2 linked regions of the Homo sapiens genome follow. The protein of the gene in region 1 purifies or fractionates together with the protein of each later gene. This does not show direct contact. Each region holds a gene or a part of one and is shown on either strand. Other genes may lie near its edges.

Region 1 (3,500 bases):
GTTTTAGTCTACTTATAGGTCTAGTAAATTTTAAGAATTTCATTTTCTCCAATATTTTACTTTGAAAAATTTCAAACTTTAAAGTTTGAAAGACTAGTATAGTGAGCACTGATGTATCCCTTCGCCTAAATTCACCAACTGGTTGCATTCTGTCACATTTGCTTTATTGCTATCTCTGTATCTATCTATGCACTTTTTTATTGAAACATTTTATGTAAAAAATTGTAAAGGCCAGGTGCAGTAGCTCACACCTGTAATCCCGGCATTTTGGGAGGCTGATGCAGGAAGATTGAGGACAGGAGTAGGAAACCAGCCTGTGCAACACAGCAAGACCTGTCACTACAAAAAAATAAAAATAAAAAATTAGCTGGGCATGGTGGCATGCACCTGTGGTCCCAGCTACTTGGGAGGCTTAGATGGAAGGATTGCTTGAGCTTGGGAGGTTGAGGCTGCAGTGAACCATGATTGTGGCTCACTGTAGCCCACATGACAGAGCAAGACCCTGTTTCAAAAACAACAACAAAACAAAAACAAACCAAAAAAAAAAGATACTTTTTTAAATTGTATATTTACACTTGTTATACATATTTAACGTGTGTGTGTGGAGGGACGTGTGAGCATGACCCTACTGCACAGACGATCAACTGTGTACCAACTAATTCACGCTCCCCTTTACAAACTTTACAGCTAGTCCCGCCCCGCTAGGGACCACATCTTCCAGACCCCCTTGCATTTGGCAAGGGCCATGTGACTAGTTCTCACCAATGGAATGTGAGTAGAAGTGAAAGTGTCTTTCTGGGCTAGGGTGACCTTAGGGGTCCCTGGATGACTATGCCACAGAGGTCAATAAACTTCTAACTTAAAGTCTGCATTTGCTTGTTACATAAGCTATATTGTCTGAACTAATATAATCCCAATAAATTGAAGGACCGGCTGGGCACGGTGGCTCACACCTGTAACCCCAGCACTTTGGGAGGTCGGGGCAGGTGGATCACGAGGTCAGGAGTTCAAGACCAGCCTGGCCAAGATGGTGAAAGTCCGTCTCTAGTAAAAATACAAAAAGTAGCTGGCCGCGGTGGTGGGCACCTGTAATCCCAGCTACTCAGGAAGCTGAGGCAGAGAATTGCTTGAACCCAGGAGGCGGAGGTTGCAGTGAGCCAAGATCGTGCCGCTGCACTCCAGCCTGGGTGACAGAGCAAGACTCCATCTAGAAAAAAAAAATAAAAAAAAAATTGCATGACCTATTCCTGGGTTAAGATTGCAGTTTGAAACACACTGGTGTGGTCTTCTGATTTTCCAAATATTTTTGAACTGTGGAGACCCTCCATTAAATATTTCATTTAAAAGTCAAAACAGAGTGCCGGGTGCAGTGGCATGAGCAGGTAATCCCAGGGGCTGGGAGGCTGAGGCGGGAGGATTGCTTGAGCCCAGGAGTTTGAGGCTAGCCTGGGCAACATAGCGAGACCCCTGTCTCTAAAATAAAATAAAAAGAAATATACAAAAGTCAAAAAGAAGTGTCTCTGATGGAGCCAGAGGTTGAAGGGTGGGGAGAGGCTAAGCCCTAGTCCATTTGAACACGTCCCTACCCACATTACCCTCAAAGGGAACCCTGCAGCATCTTTCCTGACTCTTAGGACCCAGGGAATACTGTGTGACAATGGCTGAGCCAGATGGTTGTCATACCTCCATTTCTCAAAAGAGGAAATGGAGGCTGGGTGCTGTGGCTTACACCTGTAATCCCAGCACTTTGGGAGGCCGAGGTGGGAGGATCACAAGAGGCCAGGAGTCCAGCCTAGCCAACATGGTGAAACCCATCTCTACCAAGACTACAAAAATTTGTCAGGTGTGGTGGCACACACGTGCAATCCCAGCTACTTGGGAGGCTGAGGCATGAGAATTGCTTGAACCCAGGAGGTGGAGGTTACAGTGAGCAGAGATAGAGCCACTGGGTGACATTGAGACTCTGTCTCAAAAAAAAAAAAAAAAAAAAAAGAGTAGATGGAGAAACAGCAGGAGAAGGACTTGAGTGAGGTCACAAACAGCTACCCAGGGCCAGGGCCAGAGCCATCTCCCAGGTCTCTGATGAGGATAGGTCTGTCCCCTCCCTTTCTATGCCTCTCATCTGCCTCCTCCTCTGTGAAGGAGCCACACAGGCCCCCATCTATGAACCAGCACCCCCAAGAGGAGACCCTGGGCATCCCAGGGCCCCAGAAGGCTTGCAACAAAGCCTTGTCCTTAGTCTCCAGCCAGAGACAGTTGCATCCTGGGACCAGTTATCTATTCCTTACTCATCTCTGTTGTTTCTACAACAGCCAAAATGATGCTAACACCTAGTAAGCATCCAGTCCTTTGCATATAGTAGATGCACACACTATAGGTATAATAATAATAATCGTTCAAATTCACATAGCACTTTCTATGTGCTAGACACTCAGCACTTTACAAATATTGACTTTATGTCTCACAACAACCCTGTGAAGTAAATGGTATTATCATCAACCCCATTTGACAGATGAGGAAACTGAGGCAAAAAAGATTGGGTCGGCCGGGCGCAGTGGCTCAGGCCTGTAATCCCAGCACTTTGGGAGGCCGAGGCGGGCAGATCACTTGAGGTCAGGAGTTCAAAACTAGCCTGGCGAACATGGTGAAACCCCATCTCTACTAAAAATAAAAAAAAATTAGCCAGGCATGGTGGCAGGCGCTTGTAACCCCAGCTACAATCCCAGCTACTCAGGAGGCTGAGGCAGGAGAATTGTTTGAACCCAGGAGGCAGAGGTTGCAGTGAGCCAGGATCATACCATTGCACTCCAGCCTGGGCAGCAGAGCAAGACTCCGTCTCAAAAAAAAAAAAAAAAGAGAATTGAGTCATTCACTCAAGGTCACACAGCTAGTAGGTGGTAGAAGGTGGTAAACTCCTTGGATGCTATTATGACATAATAGCTGAAAGAATGAAGATTTGGTGTCAGACTAGATTTTAATCACCTATTTGCAAGGCGATGCAGGGAAACGTGACTTAACAACTCTGAATCTCAATTTCTTTGTTTATAAAATGGAGATAATATTTCCTACTTGGATGGGTTATTGCAAGGCTTAAAAGGGAGAAAACATATCAAATAGCCAACATCTTGCCCATTACATAAAAGGGGCTTAAATGAAAACAAATTCCTTTCGTTATCATTGACCCATCCTTATGCTACAGGCATATGAGTCAGGAAAAATGGAAGGCACAATTCCTTCACTTAAGCATCTCAGCATGCTTTTTTTTTTTTTTTTTTTTTTTAAGACAAGTTTCCCTCTGTTGCCCAGGTTGGAGTGCAGTGGTACAACCTCGGCTCACTGCAACCTCCACCACCTGCGTTCAAGTGATTCTCCTGCCTCAGCCTCCCGAGTAGCTGGGATTACAGGCGCCTGGCACCACGTCCAGCTAATTTTTGTATGCTTAGTAGAGACAGGGTTTCACCATGTTGACTAGGCTGGTCTGGAACTCCTGACCTCAAGTG
Region 2 (3,500 bases), on another chromosome or scaffold:
ATAGATTTGCTGCAGTTTGGAGCCAATTAAAGATAACAGAAGATGAACATCAGCAGGGCAGGGACAACCATCATCAGTAAAAGACACTGATACCTGACCAACCTGAAGAATAAGAAAAACACAGATGTCAAAAAGAAATGGCAACCTAAACTCCAAAGTACCTTGCAAGACCAACCTCATAAGCCTATACTGCTAGAGAGTGGAGGAAATTAAAAATTTATCCAAAGCTGAATTCACTTTTTGAAGGAATAAACAAGTATTTATTGAGAGACTTTTCTGTACAGACACTGTTTTCATTGCTAGGGGTATAGCAGAGAACAAGAGATGACATTGCCACTGGTATTCCAGCATCCAAGAAGGCAGGCTAGGTCTAATGCCACCCTCTAGCTCCAAAGTGAAGTCCATGAAGCAATAACTTCTTGTACCAACTCCTCGCTATGCCTTCAAGTAAGGAAAAAAAGGAACACACCATTCACAACTGACCAAATAGAGGCAGAGCTAAAAGTGCTCTGTCACTCTCTATGAGGCATCCCTTACCCTAGAATGCACTGGGGAAGTTTGCAGCACAGCACTCTGCACCTAAGTCATTTGAACACTGCCAGTTGAGCTCTGCCACTAACGTCACTTAAATATCAAACCTCTCAAATGGCAAATGTGGTTCATGATGTCGAAAACAAAACTCAGAGGTGGGAAGGGAGGGTGGTAGTTGGTTAAAGGATCAGGTACTTTTCACCACTGCAAAACCTTAGGTTCCTTTCTTCTTTGGAGCAAAAACCTCTTCTATCCTCTAAAACCTTGAAAAAAATTTTTTCTTCCAGCAGGGTACTGAAAATAGCTTTGCATTTAACATTTAAAGTTGTTTTTGATCCCACACTCTTTCAGCTCTGCTCTCTCCTGCAAACTCATTCCATTCCCTAAGGGCACTTATAACTATATTTTATAAGCAGGCAAGCCAGAGTCACCATTTTTATCCCTAAGAGTTAAAAAGAAAAAACAATTTACATAATTATATGGAAGATAAGTTGGCCAAGAACACAGAAATCTTATCTGGACCAAAAGTTCTGGGACAAAATTTCTTTCAACTCATCAAGAAAGATAGCAGATCAAAATCAAGGTTCCTACTGAGAATGTCACTGCAGAGCTCTGCACATGGGGAACTGCTTGAGTTCCTCATTGCTGAGTGCCATATACTTCTTCAAGAAGAAATCAGAGGCAGCCATTTGAGGGCAGGTTTGAACAACGAAGTATATCTACGTTTCCCTGCTATGGTGAGAAAACAATAGGATTTTACAGCCAAGAAGAACCTGAGAAATCAAAGTTCAAAGAGGATAACTTACTCAAATTTACTCAGCCAGTCAGTGGCTGGGCCCAGTCTGGAGCCCAGGCCTCTCCCAGCTCCCAGTCCAGAGTTTTCCCCACTCTCTGCACTACTGTCTCATTTATAACACATGCAACCAAATCTTAAAGGTATAAAGGTAAAAAATCCCTTCTATAAAACTTTAACAGACTGAAAATACAGTAGGAGAAGTGACTGAGGTAAATGGGTCCTATGATTGCTAACAGCAAATGAGGTACAATGCTACTGAGAGGAGGGTCTACCAGCAGAAGGCTTGACGACTGCTGATACCAACCAGTATGTTTTCAGCTACAGTCACCACTAAATAGCTTTTGAGGGCTCGCCTAGAAACTACATCACTATTTACTTCATTGTTTCTTATAGAAAAATTTATCCCAAGTTTCCACCTAGTGCCTTACAAATAAACTTTTGGAACAAAACCTGTTTTTAAGATGGTTGTGCACATGAAGCAGAATTATGAGGTCTAAAGTTCTGCACTAAACACAATTAAAACAGTAATATTTGGTGAAACATGCTAGGAGTGCATTTATAAGAAAACCCTTCAAACCCTTAATTTGTTTATATGCAATATAATGTTTTATTAAAAGCCTTCTAAGCAGGGTATGATAAATTATTATTTTATAAAATTACTATTTTATAATATATAACCAATGACAAATGCTATAATTCTGTATGTAAGTATTTACAAGGCCTTCCTAACACTGGGCTCAGGGTTAAAGGGAGTATAAAAGAGGCAGAAAACATCTGTACACAAGCAGCTCATAATCGAGTCACACTAGCCTTTACTTTCCTCAAAAATATCAAGCACCTTTCAACCCCAGGGCCTTTACATGTGCTGTTCTCTCTTCCTGGGATACTTTCCCCCAGATCTTTCTGAAGCTAAGTTCAAATGTCACCTCCTCAGAGAGGTCTCCCCTGTGATCTAGATAAGGTACCCTCCCTCCCACCATACCTCATCGCTACTGCTTTACTCTATTTGCTTGCTATCCTAGCACTCCTAGCACTTCTCACAACAAGGCATGAACGTGTTTCACTATTCATCATCTGTCCCCTCCTGCGGGCCCCTTGTTTTGTTCACTGCTGTATCCTCAGTGCCCACAACAGTGCTAGGCATCCAATAAACTTCACTGACGGAGTAACTGAGTGAAACTGGAGAGTGGGAAGTGAGCGTAAGATAATTAACCATGAAACAATTAAAAAATGAGACAACTGGCCATCCTGATTCAGTATGATATGGTAATTTGCTCATTATGACATACCCCTGCTTCTGAACGAATGAATGGTTGGCAATCAAGAGCAAAAGGGAGAGCACACACAAAGGGAACAAATGTTATCAGAGGTACCTCACAGAGAAGTGAGATCCAAGGCAGGCACGGGCAAGGAAGAGAGGCCTCAAGGGAACAATTTAAGCAAAGACCCCGCTAGCCAGAGGGAGAGTGTGAAGTGAGGTGGCCTAGGGAGGACAGCGGAGAGGCAAGGAGGACTGAACCTCGGGCACAGGGCTGTGGCTGGGAATGGAGGTTGAGCGGGGAAGCAGGGCTGGGGAGGAGGAACAGGACCAGACCCTGGAGAGCCTGGAAGACTGGACACAGGGGTGCCACCTGCATGCCACTGGCACCAGGGCTGTTCTTAGCAGGCAAAGCTGGCCTGTCATCTGGGAAGATTGAAAGGAGTTGAGCAGAGCAGAAAACTGGTCAAAAGATGACCTGGGTGGTCTAAGTACGAGGGGGCAAAAAGAGCTTCTTCCCTCTGCTTAGGTGTGAGAAAGATACAAGTGAGCAAGATGCGAAGGCATCCCCCACCCCCCGCCAAAAAAAAAAGACAATTTCCAGAGCATCTCACAGTACCACACCATGGCAGATTCAGGCCAACTTCCCATCCATCCTGCTCCCGGCGCACTCAAGAAAGGCAGAGCTCAGGACGAGAGCTCTGAGGGCAGGGCACGTCCTTCCATGCCTCCCAAATCTGAGGTTAATTATATTCAGGACGGCCTGTGTTTATTATCCTTTTATTCTTTGAAAAAAAAAAAGTGGTATCTAATTTCACTGTGCAGTATATATTTGAACATTATATAACACATTTTTATGTAACAGGTTCTTGACATAAAACAATGTGTCCCTTACTATCTAAATGTATTTGGGGA

The links. Proteins that work in one complex are often made in the same cells at the same time.
Region 2: the proteins of HNF4A (region 1) and BMAL1 purify together in Homo sapiens (co-immunoprecipitation; one study listed by IntAct). This does not show direct contact.

Annotation. Positions count from the first base shown.
Region 1 is NC_000020.11:44,362,199-44,365,698, reverse strand, and holds part of HNF4A (hepatocyte nuclear factor 4-alpha), read right to left. Parts: intron 1-3,500. UniProt on the Homo sapiens protein: Transcriptional regulator which controls the expression of hepatic genes during the transition of endodermal cells to hepatic progenitor cells, facilitating the recruitment of RNA pol II to the promoters of target genes. Activates the transcription of CYP2C38.
Region 2 is NC_000011.10:13,284,290-13,287,789, reverse strand, and holds part of BMAL1 (basic helix-loop-helix ARNT-like protein 1), read right to left. Parts: intron 1-3,500. UniProt on the Homo sapiens protein: Transcriptional activator which forms a core component of the circadian clock.